4 linked regions of the Homo sapiens genome follow. The protein of the gene in region 1 interacts with the protein of each later gene in a pairwise test. Each region holds a gene or a part of one and is shown in the gene's direction. Other genes may lie near its edges.

Region 1 (2,406 bases):
ATTCAAGGTCTTCTGGACAGCCTCACAGGGATCTTGAATAAAGTCCTGCCTGAGTTGGTTCAGGGCAACGTAAGTAGGCAAGGTGGGGATCCCCTGATCCTCAGGTTTTAGAGCTTCTTGCACTAAAACAAAGCCCTGAGCTAAGTGGGTCCGAGTCCCTCAATTTGATAAGTAACTTCCATTCATCAATCTATTTGTCCATTGATCCATCTGTCCATGTTTCTTCTTTACATCTTTCCAAATGCATTGATGAGTCTCTGCTCTAGGCCAGGCCCTGCTTGTCCACACTGAAGCTGAAATGGATTGGCCCCTGTTCTGAGAAATTGGAGAAGTTCCCTGTCCAGCCTTCTATGGCCACAGACAGTCTTTCAACCTATGCTTGGGTGTCTCCTATAACCAGGGCACTCCACTCCACTTAGAATCAGATGTGATGTCACAGGGTGAACACTGGGCTTGTTGTGTGATTTGGGGCCCTTCACAACATCCCTCATGCCTCCAGTTTCTCCTCAGGCATGTGTGACCATTGATCTGTGGGATTGCTTAGAATCACTTTCACACAGAAAAATGACAGGAAATTTCCCCAGAGAACCCCCACTAGGGATTCTGCTGCTCCAGGGTGCCACTCTGCCTAACTCTCCTCTCTGCCCCTGGCCAGGTGTGCCCTCTGGTCAATGAGGTTCTCAGAGGCTTGGACATCACCCTGGTGCATGACATTGTTAGTAAGTACCTGCTTTCAAGCCCTCTGTCCCTCTCTGCAGGAGCAGCAACTTCCCCCAAGGAGTTTTTTCCCTGCACACCCTAGGATACTAGGTCCCTCTGGCCTCAACTCTCTCTATTTTGGGCTTCATTTTCCCCCGAATAATCCAGATAATTTTGAGATAGACACCGTGTCTCCTGCCTCAGCCCTGACACTGAGGACAGCTGGGCTGGTTGGTAGAAGGAGGCCTGGCTTCCTCCAAGCATGCTGAACACAGTCGGATCTCCAGAGGCCTCCATTCCCTGGCCCCCCACCTTGAGGAATATGGACTCCTTCACGTTGAGATCATAACTGTCGTCTGTTTTTTTATTGCTTGTTTGTTTGTTTAGACATGCTGATCCACGGACTACAGTTTGTCATCAAGGTCTAAGCCTTCCAGGAAGGGGCTGGCCTCTGCTGAGCTGGTAAGTGCCCTTCCCCACACCCCAGGGTTTTGGGGGCTGGCTGTTCTTCTCCTGGTAGAAGGCAGACGGGAGCTTGGGACAATGACATCCAAAGAAAGAGACAAACATCTACAGAGGTACACACAGGGATGCACAGAGAAATCCACAGAAAAGCTGACAGAGGTGGAAGGATGCAGGCAGCACAGCAACACAGCTACCAAGAGAAACACACACACAAATGCCCAGACACATGGCCACTGATACAGATGCACACACTCTCACACCAGCACACTCACACACATGCACACATTGGTGGACTCACCACACACAGACACACACACTCTCACCCAGCACCCTCACACATATGCACACATCAGTGGACTCACCACACATAAGTACACGTGGATACACAGACACACTCACTCAAACACATGCTCACAGAGCCCTGACTCCAGGCCTGATGGCTTGCCCAGGGTCTCAGCCTCCTCCTGTCCCTCTGGGGCATGAGTTTGATGATGAGTCAATATCAGTAACGCTCACTGACCTTGAGTCTCCATCCTGATTAGGGTCTTCCCCCAACAGAACTATTTCTTGCTGCTCAATCCATTTCCTCTGGCCCAGCTTCCCAGTGCTCACAGATGGCTGGCCCATGTGCTGGAAGATGACACAGTTGCCTTCTCTCCGAGGAACCTGCCCCCTCTCCTTTCCCACCAGGCGTGTGTAACATCCCATGTGCCTCACCTAATAAAATGGCTCTTCTTCTGCATCAGGGGCCTTGTCATCCTTCACCATTACTTGAGGGCTCCTGGGTTGGAAACAGCCCTGGCCTGGGTGGTTGGGCCCATAGCATAGAGTTTGGCACTTACTTTGTAGATCTGAATAGTCTTGAGCAGGTCAGGGAGATGTTCAAGTGTGTGTGGATTTCAGAAGGCTTTCCCAGGTGTCCTTAGAAAGGGGGAATAAGGCATTCAGGGTAGATATAATACTCCAGGTACAGTTAATGACATACAAGTTTGCCGCACCACGAATGAAAATGGCAGATTTGTGTTAGGGAAATGCAAATTAGAACTACAATGAAGGCCAGGTGCCGTGACTCCCGTCTGTAATCCCAGCACTTTGGAAGGCCAAGACAGGCAGATCAGTTAAGGGCAGAAGTTCAAGACCAGCCTGACTGACATGGCAAAACCCTATCTCTACCAAAAATACAAAAATTAGCCAGGGGTGGTGGTGTGTGCCTGTGGTCCCAGCTACTCGAGAGGCTGAGGT
Region 2 (3,500 bases), on another chromosome or scaffold:
ACCGGTGCCTTTCTCGGTGTTAGGGAACCTCTGAACCTGAGCTGTGTTTTCAAACAAACAAACAAAAATAACCAGCTCTCCCGGCTCTTCCCGGTGAACACACGTGAATTTTGGGGTCAGAGGGTTGTGAAGGTATAACTGCGCCATCTTACTCCTCACTCTTTTAAGTCGGACTTAAAAGGTTTTGCCATTATTTATAAGGTTCTTGGGGGCTTTTTTTAAACCCTCCCCAATTGTTGGGCTAATTCACTGTTTCCACAGAATCATTCCCACTTAGAACAGTACCCTATTTTTCTAGGTTTCTTAGGCATACAAAATGAACACAGGTAAAGGCATTTAAACAAAAGAAAAATAGCCGAAGAATTTGCTAAAGCAATATTCACTTTTAAAATGCAATTTTTCCCCTAAGGTTCGAGGAGTCTTGTTCGTAGCCGTTGAAAGTATTTTTCCATCCTAAAAATATCGGTGGAAATATTGACCAGAAATAAACTTTTAAATGATCTGTGATGTTTACAAGGATATGTCTAAAACGTTTATTACATTATTTTCCTCTTAATGTGAATTCTCCACGTTTGAAACTGTAACTCGTTTTCTCATTTTTTGTTCTTCTTGTTACTTCCTCATATTGTGTACTTGGAAATTACCTTTGTAAATACTTGAGAAATTCGTTCTTATATATAATTAATATAAAAAGTTTGCATTTCTCAAAAACATCTCTATCAAAGCCTGTGTTCTCACGAGTTTAATATCAAAGTCTTAATAAAATAATCACAACTACCCAAATGCTTATAAAATATGTTCGATTACTGGATTTTTATTCATTAAACAGAATTAATTTTATTTGACATATTTAAAGGCGCCATTTAGAAATAAAATTGCTTATTATGTTGCAATGCTGTATCTATTTCAGCCTCTACACCGTTTTCTTTTTTGTTTCACCTGAAACTAGTTTTCCCTTCCGTTTTTTTTCTTGTTCTATCAAGCTAATATATATATCAACATACAGTAATGGGGTGCTGGTTTTTGTAAGTTAAATATGTACCTGCATTAAATAAATAGTAAACATGTATATATTGCTTCTTTAGTACTTTTGTTCTGTGCTGCACACTATTTTAATTTCTAGTTTTAAATTATATCTCTCTTTTCAAAGCATCTGTTCAATAAGCAAGAAAAGATATTGGCAAAGTTGAAACCATTCTAGACAAATAAAATTCAAAGGTGCTAAAACTAGCAGTTTACACACCTGTGTTTATGAGAAATGAAAAGTATAACCATGTTCTTATCCAGTATTTAAAATTTATGAGAAACATAATACAGGAAAACAAGCATCTAAAATTGTTAATGTCCGAAATTGAAGTTATTTGTCCCCATTAGCCCAGTAGATTTTGTCTGGAAGGTGGAGCTGTGGATTTTTTTTTTTTTTAACTACTTGCCTCACCTCAGTGGTGTGATCCTCCCGTCCCAAGGAGATACAACATTGTATTTTGGAAAACTTTTCTAAAACTCTGAAAATTATTTACTATTTGGCTAAGACATCCTCCTTGCTTCTTAGAAGGTGAACACATACATTTCACCCCTGTTTTATAAGAAATGGAGATACCCATTCAAAAGGAAAATAATGTAGGAGAGGTTGAAGCTAAAATTGGGCAAATTCAGAAACTGATGCTATCCCTACTTCATTGTAGGATCAGGGAGTCCAGCCCCAAGCTAAAGGCATCCCCACTTTCCAGTGGGCCTCCTGCCTTTTAAATCTCCCACATTGCAGGAAAATGGAGGAAAGCAAAATAAAATGGCCAGGCGCGGTGGCTCACGTCTGTAATCCCAGCACTTTGGGAGGCCGAGGCAGATGGATCACCTAAGGTCAGGAGTGTGAGCCCAGCCTGGCCAACATGGTGAAACCCCATCTCTACTAAAAATAAAAAATTTAGCTGGGTGTGGTGCTGGGCATCTATAATCCCAGTTACTCTGGAGGCTGAGGCAGGAGAATCGCTTGAACCCAGGATCCTGGTGGAGGTTGCAGTGAGCCAAGATGCCGTTGCACTCCAGCCTGGGTGACAAGAGCAAAACTCCACATCAAAAAAAATAATAATAAATAAATTAATTAATTAATTAAATAAAACAAGAGCTTTTCTTTTTGCTTAATAAGAGAGAGTGGTGGTGGTGCTTTTTTATTCCTGAAGATGGGAAGTCCTCTTTTGCCCACTAACCTCAGAAGAAAGGGATGAGGTGTACCGTACAGGGGCAGTCACCTTCTCCTCTGTTTAGCTTCCATTTTGGCCTCATGTCTACCCCAAAGTTGTAGCTTAGATGGGGGGAAAATTCAGAATTTTGCATAGACCATAGGTAGCACCCCCTAGAAAAAGAATGTTTCTCCCCAGATGTCTCCCACTAGTACCCTAACCATCTGCTTGTCTGTCTAGTGAGGACCCTTGGAGGGCTGCTAAAATGATCAAGGGTTACATGCAGCAACACAACATCCCCCAGAGGGAGGTGGTCGATGTCACCGGCCTGAACCAGTCGCACCTCTCCCAGCATCTCAACAAGGGCACCCCTATGAAGACCCAGAAGCGTGCCGCTCTGTACACCTGGTACGTCAGAAAGCAACGAGAGATCCTCCGACGTAAGTGTTTTCATCCTGCCTCTGCCTCAACCTGAAGTGACCTTTGCCCTCTCACCCCATTGGCTGCCTCAGTTTCCCTTTCATCGACAAGGCCTTGTGAGCACTTGGCAGATATGAGGAAGGTGGCAAGTAGATTTGGCCTTGGTGGTTGCTGTACAATGGATTGGCTTCTGTCATGTTCTTCAGTCACAGCCCCCTTGCTACCCAGCCAGTTGCTCTGAGGAGCCTGTCAGTGTATGCAGCATACCTTAAACTTTTTGGCCCCTCCTTCCACCTCCTTCTCTTTGAAACCAAGTAGGTGACAGAGTGAAATGTCTTCCCTGAGAGAAAACCCAGCATCTCCCCTTGATACGTGACCATCAGTCAATTTCCAAAGAAGACATTTCGTTGCAGTCAATAATATTGATTACTATTACTGTTAATTTCCTCCTCTCTGGAAAAAGTATCAACAATAGAATGCATTTGTATAGAGAGATATATTCAGAACTTCACCCTGTTCTTGGAGGATAGTGGGAGGGATTGAATCCTGAGGCAATTTAAGGTGTTTACCCACATTTACCAACACTGGTAGAGTGTGGGGACCTCAGCTGGTGGCCCTGCTCATGAAGAAGCTATTTCTGGCTAAGGCAGGGCACAGGAAAAGCATCTGCATTTGGAACTCTGACCCATCAATTCTTGTCATCCCCATTCCCATCCCAAAGTTTTTTTTCTGTCCCAAGATTTCTCCCACCCAATAATTCTAAAAGGTTTTTGTTTTGAAGTACGTCTAGAGAAGTTTGAACTGCCTATGAATAACAAGAGTAGGAATGACATACTGTCTGTATTTTAGGAAAGTATTCTTTGACATTACACTTTCATTACTTTGATCCAATCCTTTTCC
Region 3 (4,000 bases), on another chromosome or scaffold:
GGAGAGATAAGCAGCTAACTTGGCCAGCTCCAGAGTGTGCAGGATGGCTTTCTTTTGGACAAACCAAGCCCAGTCATAAGCCTCTGAACAACCCCAGACAGGGAGAGTTTCAGGCTTTCGGAGTCAGACATATTCCATAGTGCTGCCGGCTCTGCCAGATCTGGCTTTCTGGGGTTTGTGAGGGGGCATGGGCGACTCTCAGGAGCACATCTCTCAAACAGAAAATGGTCCCACAGGGGCCCTGTGTGTCTTGTCCATGACTGGGTCTCCAGAGTTTTGCAAAGGGCCTGGCACACATTTGGCAGTCTGTAAATATTTGCTGAATTTGTTGTTGACTTGACATTTGAATTTCTTGTTCCCTAGGCCTTAAGCTAAAACCAGAGAAAGGCCAAAATGTGGGGAGCAAGAAAGGAAGCCATAGATAAACCCCAAGATGTGTAATAGTGTATAATTTCTCTGGGAAGTTTTAAAGAGAAACAAACATTAGGCATGTTGGATTTTGCCAGTGTCTGCTCAACATACATAGGTGTTAACTTGACTTTTTCTCCAAAGATAGTCATAAACCAAAAGGTCACTACCTCCTGAACTAAAGCTTGGGGTACAGGGAGAACCCAGGAGGCAGATTTGTGATAGTTCTGGGCTTTTTTCCAAGAAGGGAGAAGGAGAGGTCAGCGCTTCATCCCAAAGGCCAGCGTAGAGCTGGGCACATACTGTGCACTCAGTCATTGTGGAGAGACCTGCATCACTCCTTCCATTAAGATACTTTCCCAGAGCTGTGAGTGGGCTCCACTGTCTCCACTACTCAGAGAAGCAGAACCTCCCCACACCTCCTCCACTCTATCCTCTCCAGAGCTGGGCACCGCTCTGCAGGGCCCAGGTGCAGCTAATAGGCAGAGGGATGGCTGCTGAGCACCTGATGCAGGTGAGCGTGCCTCCTGGGTCCTGTCAGACAGAGCTAGGAGGAGGCCATGCCCAAACATGGGGCAACACCAGGCACCACCCCCTCACCAGGTAAGCCTGCCACCTTAGCACTTTTACCATTTCAGCTTATTTTCAAGGTGTGTTTGGTAGCCTGGAACAAACTTATTGCCTTGGAGGCAAACCCAGCCCATGAATATTTGGGATTAATTATCTCTCCTTCGTTTGAGCCCAACAACCTCCTCAAATGTATATAAAGGGATTTATTTTGCACAGGTCTTCATTTCCCATCCCTCTTCCTCTGACTCTCAGTGTCCCTGCTTAACTTACACTCTTCTCTTCGCCAAGCTCCTTACCATGAGCAGACAAGCCAGCAAGACATCTGGTGGCGGGAGCCAGGGTTTCTCCGGCCGCTCTGCTGTGGTCTCCGGCAGCAGCAGGATGAGCTGTGTGGCCCACTCTGGGGGAGCTGGCGGAGGGGCCTATGGCTTCCGGAGCGGAGCAGGTGGCTTTGGCAGTCGCAGCCTCTACAACCTGGGCGGCAACAAGAGCATCTCCATCAGCGTGGCAGCTGGCGGCTCCCGGGCTGGAGGCTTTGGGGGAGGGCGGAGCAGCTGTGCCTTTGCAGGTGGCTATGGAGGTGGCTTTGGGAGCGGCTATGGAGGTGGCTTTGGTGGTGGCTTTGGTGGTGGCAGAGGAATGGGAGGTGGCTTTGGTGGAGCTGGTGGCTTTGGAGGGGCTGGTGGCTTTGGAGGGGCTGGTGGCTTTGGTGGTCCTGGTGGCTTTGGTGGGTCTGGTGGCTTTGGTGGGCCTGGCAGCTTGGGCAGTCCTGGTGGCTTTGGCCCTGGGGGCTTTCCTGGGGGAATTCAGGAAGTGACTATCAACCAGAGTCTCCTGCAGCCCCTCAATGTGGAGATCGACCCCCAGATTGGGCAAGTAAAGGCCCAGGAGCGGGAACAGATCAAGACCCTCAACAACAAGTTTGCCTCCTTCATTGACAAGGTAATGAAGCTTTGACTGGTCATCCCTTCCTGGGCTGGGGACTTTGAATTTGACCTTTGGGACACAGTGTTTAAATGTTTCTTGGATAGGCCAGACTGGAGGGTGAGGAGTTAGGTGGAACTCTAGGGTCTGGGAAGATATCCAGGGTTGAGGAGTTTGTCTACATGGTCAAGTGAGGGGAGGTGTAGAAAGAAAACAGTCCCCTATTTGGACCTGAGCACCACACATCCTGTTTGTGGGAACCCCTGCTGAAGTTTCCAGTCATTGCCTCATTGAGGCCCAGGCTGGCAGGGCAGGCAGCCCAAGGCAAGGGCCACAGCCACCATCAGCGAAGGGTCCACCAAGAATGGGAGGCTTTTCAAATACAAGCTGCCCTCTGAGGCTTTCCAGGAAGCCCTTTCCCCCTCATATTGCTGTGCCAGGCAGAGGAGGCTGATTACCTGGAGCAGGGATTAAGAGCATAAGAACCTTAGTTAGTCCCAAGGGAGCGCAGAGAAATGAGTGACTTTGCACTCCTACTCAGCCTAGTCAGGAAGACAAGAGTGCTCGGTGAGCTTCTCCAGACCAGGACAGTTCTCATGGGGCTGCCTCCCCTCCAGGCCCAAGAGAGGTGTTGTCATGCTAACTGTGGCATGCCAGCCAGTGTTGCTTCCCAGCTTCCCAGCATCACTTCACTGTTTTTGAAGAGCTAGCATGTCAGTAGAGTCGTGGGTGGAAATGGTGCTGCTGAGGTTTATGTGCATTTTTGTAGAGTGTACTGTGGTTTTGGAAGTTAAGATAGGGTCATGAAGTTCCCAGGAACAACAAGCAATAATTCTATTGCTTTCAGGTAGGAGCTACTTCCCCTTCCTTTGTAACTTTCCAAACCACGCTGCAAGTGTAGTGTCCTGACTCATCACCCATCTGATCATAATCTCTCTGACTACAGTAGGAGCCTATCTTTGCATCTTTTCTAGGCCTTTGTGCTGGGGGCCCAGGAGATAGACACCTAGTCCTACCTGAGTGAAGGCCCCTCTGCTCCTCTGCTACAAGTGTTGCCTGATGTTGCTTCCTGCAACCATTGCAGGTGCGGTTCCTGGAGCAACAGAACAAAGTCCTGGAGACCAAGTGGAACCTGCTCCAGCAGCAGGGCACAAGTTCCATCTCAGGCACAAACAACCTTGAGCCTCTTTTTGAGAATCACATCAACTACCTGCGGAGCTACCTGGACAACATCCTCGGGGAGAGAGGGCGCCTGGACTCTGAGCTGAAGAACATGGAGGACCTGGTGGAAGACTTCAAGAAGAAGTGAGTGACAGGGCAGGAGTGGGAAGATGCCATGGCCCACCCTGTCTCAGAGTCTTGGCCCCTTCTACATGCCCCCTGACTGCTGGGCAGTGGCGTCTCCTGGCCCATTTCCCTCTCCTTACCTTCATGAAGGACAGCTTGGTTCATTCAGTTCCCCCTCACCTTCCTTCTCCAAGCATGGTGCTTTGCAAATAAAATTGTGGCAAGAGGATGAGTTTAGGCTGGGCTTGGTGGCTCATGCCTGTAATCCCAGCACTTTGGGAGGCCGAGGTGGACAGATCATTTGAGGTCAGGAGTTCAAGACCAGCCTGGCCAACATGGCGAAATATCATCTCTACTAAAAATACAAAAATTAGCTGGGTGTGGTGGCACACACCTGTAATCCAAGATAGTCGGGTGGCTGAGGAAACAGAATTTCTTGAACCCTGGAAATGGAGGTTGCAGTGAGTCAAGATTGTACCACTGCACTCCAGCCTCGGTGACAGAGCGAGACTATGTCTAAAAAAAAAACAAAAACAAAAAACGGATGAGTTTAGAGTTGGGGAAGCATTTCCTCATGAGCCAGGTTGGGGAAGATCCTGGTTCTGGCATGTGAAAGATTCTGGGACAACTCATGGTATGGTGATCAACCATCCAGAGGTTTGCCTGGGACTGAGGGGTTTCCTGGGATGCAGAAATTTTAGTGCTAAAACCAGACAGTTTGCCTGGGCAAATTGACTTGGTTGGTCCCCCAACTAACAGGGAGATAGTAAAGAGGATGTGCTCATCTGAGAGGGGCAGGATAGGGATGGAG
Region 4 (3,500 bases), on another chromosome or scaffold:
ACCTAGTTTCAGCTTGGGGAGAGGGTCTCTATTGACATAAGCAGAGGTTATAAAATTTAATTAGCCATTCCTATCAGATTTATGGCATTCAAATTGTTCTGTGTTTCTTCCCTTTGATCCTTCCTGTACAATCCCCAAGATTTTTGTTCTGATCAAATGAGAATAAAGCTTACTGTGCAGAGAGAACTTTTCCCTTTTCTTCTTTTTCTTGTCCCCACCCCCACCCTTGTTTCAAGTCTCTTACTTTGTACCCCTTCTTTGTAGGCAAGGTCAACCAGTGTACCCAATCACGACAGGAGGATTCAGACACCCCTACCCCACAGCTCTGACCGTCAATGCTTCCATGTCCAGGTGAGTTCCAAGAACCGGGGCCTTCATCCAAGGCCATGTGTGACTTCTCAAGAAGTTCTCTAGATGGCCACCAAGCCACCCAGGGACCACAGCTACATGTAGTTCTATTAGTGTAAAGCCAATGTGGCATTAGGCTGTACTCCCAGAAAATCCTGAAAAATTGCCCTGAAATTCCAAGGTAAATGATGTCTTTCTGGGTAAAATTTTTGAGTCACTCAGTTGAACAATGTATTTTAATGAATTAAGAAGGTAAGGGAGAAACAGGACAGAAGCTTTTAAAAATGCCATTTCTCTGTTGTCCTGTCCTCAGCAAGAAAGGTAGCGGTGAAGGTAGTTTTATTATTATACCAAGAAGAGTTCGAAAAAAGATTACTGGTGTTCTCAAAGCTCAGACTCTGATTGCAAGTCAACAAGAAAGCATCCGCCTCCTCCCCTCGAAGGTAGCACTGTCCAATAGAAATATAGTGTGAGCCACAGAGGGAATTTTAAATTTCGTAGTAGCCGTGTTTTTAAAAAAGTTTTTGTTTTTTTTTTTTTAAAAAAAAGATAAAGTTATTTTTAATGACATGTTTTTATTCAATGCAATATAGCCAAAATATTATCATTTTAACATGCTATTCCTGGACAACAACTATTAATAAGATGTTATGTTCTTTTTTGTGCTGAGCTTTGGTACAAAATCTGATGTGTATCTTATACGCACAGCACTTCTCAGTTTAGACTGGCCACATTTCAAATATTCAATAGCCACACGTGGCTGGTGCATATCATAGTGGTCTGTGCAGCTCTAAGTCTTTGAAAGTTAAAAAAAAACATGTGTGTGTGTGCTGTACATTCATATATATTTATATTTCAGCGTAGAAACATATTTACAAGATACATTCCTATCCCCATGTTCTTCTTTTCCTCCCTCTGATTAATTCTGGCTAATTTTTCAGTGACTGCTAGTTTATTTACAAACTGGTTGGCAGCAGTATGTTTTAGTCGCTAATTGTTTCTAATGATAGTTTTATTTTCTGTTCATCTGATTTTCAGTCAAGTTAATTAAATCGGTGGAGGTTTAGACTTTGCTGATGGTCTGAAATCACCAACCCATTCTGATGATGGCACATAATGAAATTAGCATGCGTTACATGGCAGGGGTGCTGTCCCCAGCTTCTTTCCCCAGTCCCTGTGGCCAACATGGGAAGCCAAGACCAGAGAAGGGCCTGGAAAGACAGGTCAAGATGCTGCTTTTCCTACTTACAAAACAGTAACTTTAGCAGTGATAGAGAGTTACATTCATTAAGAAAAACAAACCGTGGCATATCTAGCATCGGTAACTATGCCGTGGATATCATAGTTGAAGAGATCCATTTTCTACCTGCGATATATCATCAAAATTTCAAAATCCATGCCAGTATTAGTTAGGTAGGAAAACGCTCGTGTGTTCTCTGGCCTAGAGAGAAGAGGAGGCGTAACACTTATTAAATAGTGTCATCACAGCCTCGCAAAGCATGGGAATGAGTAGGGGGTCTCCCAGGTGGAGAGCACCCAGGGACCACGGCTACATGTCATTCTATTAGTGTAGCAGCTTATACTCCACAGCTCATCTTCCCACCTTCCCAGCATTTGTATATTACACCTGGTTATTTTTCATGTTTGTTTATTTGGTGCGTTCTGGAGGTTAACAGTGGTAAAGTAATTGTAGGATAGGGATTGGGGTTAAGCTGATCGATTGAATTATCATTAGGAGGTTAGTCGATGAATTATAGGTGGGCATGGGGGTGGAGGAAAGGCAGGGAACGTCAGGAAGAAAGGTTAGGGCCTCAAGGTGCGGGGAGAGGCGGCCGACTCCCCAGGTAGGCCAAATGAAAGATAGCTAGTTAAAAAGCATATACAGCAAATTAAATACATTATTGTGATAATGGGGCGACAGAAGTATAGGTCTATTATACTTATGGCAGTTATAGCAAATGTAGGCAGCTTGCCCTGTTCCAGAACACCCTTTGATATTCATTCTATTCAGCAGTGGGGCCAGGACTTCTCAGAATTAAGTGATGGGTCATTATACTTTAAACACCATGGAGAAGCCTAGATTGGCAATTAAACAGCTCTTGCTGACACTCACTTGTGCCACCCTGTGACCCCCTTTAGATTGAGATGTTGGAGCTCCGGGCCCTCAGCCTGCTAAATTGGTGCAAGGCTCTTCTCCTGACGAGAGCCGGCTCTGAAATCTGCCGGCTTCAAAGGGAGCGAGATCATGTATAAACCATAATGTGGGTGCACCGTGGCTCACAAAAAATAAGGCAGGAAGAGATGAAATGTTACAAGTGCAAGGGGGAAAATGAGAGAATAATGACAAACCTAATGCAACTCAAAGCAGGATTGTTGCACAGGAAAATGCATCCTACTGCTTGTGCATAAAATCAAGGCCGGCAGATGACATCCGGTTAACAGAAACGTGTCAACAGTGAAGTAAAGTGAGAGTGAGTAAGAGAGAAGCCCCTGAGACAGCCAGAAACAAAAATTAGTTGTTCTTAACAAGTTAAGGTTCATCATTATATTCTGGCTTGGAGCCATGAAAGCAGACGGGGGTATATAATGAGCTGCTTAGAATTTTTAGGGTGTTTATTGCATTTCATGAAATAGTAGTCTGCAGAAAGGAATTTCTTAAGCGAAGGTATGTGTATACAGCCCACATCCATGTTCACACATGGTCTCTTTCTTTGCTGAACATTTTTCAGATATGGGAATATACGCGTAGGTATGGGAACTTAGAAATGTGCCTTCTTCATGGCTGCATTAGAAGTTTGTCTGCACCCCAAAATGTACTCAGATTGTGGTGCCTTCCCGTGGTATTTGGTGTATGTACACACACGTACACACACACACTCACACATGCAGTGTTTTTCTCTCTCCCCCTCCCTCTCCCTCTCACGTCTGTACACATATTCTCATTCTGCAGGAAGGGAACATATGTATTTGAGGAATGTCAGGCCTTCAAAATTCACAGTAAAAGCTGCCACCCACCACTTCACCCAAGGGCTTCCAAGAACACATGTTCTTAACTTCTGTTTCCTCTGAGGCCTTCGAGCAGTGGGAAGGAACAGGGTGTCACTTGGAGCCCAAGTGTCTCCCAAGGGGTTTTGCTTTTTTTGTTTTTCACA

What was found. Proteins that work in one complex are often made in the same cells at the same time.
Region 2: the proteins of BPIFA1 (region 1) and HNF1B interact in binary tests that used the Homo sapiens proteins (3 or more experiments, as listed by UniProt).
Region 3: the proteins of BPIFA1 (region 1) and KRT3 interact in binary tests that used the Homo sapiens proteins (3 or more experiments, as listed by UniProt).
Region 4: the proteins of BPIFA1 (region 1) and TCF7L2 interact in binary tests that used the Homo sapiens proteins (3 or more experiments, as listed by UniProt).

Annotation. Positions count from the first base shown.
Region 1 is NC_000020.11:33,241,401-33,243,806, forward strand, and holds the end of BPIFA1 (BPI fold-containing family A member 1 precursor), read left to right. Parts: coding exon 1-69; intron 70-655; coding exon 656-719; intron 720-1,086; coding exon 1,087-1,127; 3' UTR 1,128-1,161; exon of another isoform or gene 1,162-1,269; intron 1,270-1,684; exon of another isoform or gene 1,685-1,706; 3' UTR 1,707-1,906; downstream 1,907-2,406.
Region 2 is NC_000017.11:37,738,560-37,742,059, reverse strand, and holds part of HNF1B (hepatocyte nuclear factor 1-beta), read left to right. Parts: intron 1-2,420; coding exon 2,421-2,620; intron 2,621-3,500. UniProt on the Homo sapiens protein: Transcription factor that binds to the inverted palindrome 5'-GTTAATNATTAAC-3'. Binds to the FPC element in the cAMP regulatory unit of the PLAU gene. Transcriptional activity is increased by coactivator PCBD1.
Region 3 is NC_000012.12:52,793,318-52,797,317, reverse strand, and holds the start of KRT3 (keratin, type II cytoskeletal 3), read left to right. Parts: upstream 1-1,200; 5' UTR 1,201-1,275; coding exon 1,276-1,920; intron 1,921-2,986; coding exon 2,987-3,207; intron 3,208-4,000.
Region 4 is NC_000010.11:113,145,747-113,149,246, forward strand, and holds part of TCF7L2 (transcription factor 7-like 2), read left to right. Parts: intron 1-264; coding exon 265-351; intron 352-3,500. UniProt on the Homo sapiens protein: Participates in the Wnt signaling pathway and modulates MYC expression by binding to its promoter in a sequence-specific manner. Acts as a repressor in the absence of CTNNB1, and as activator in its presence.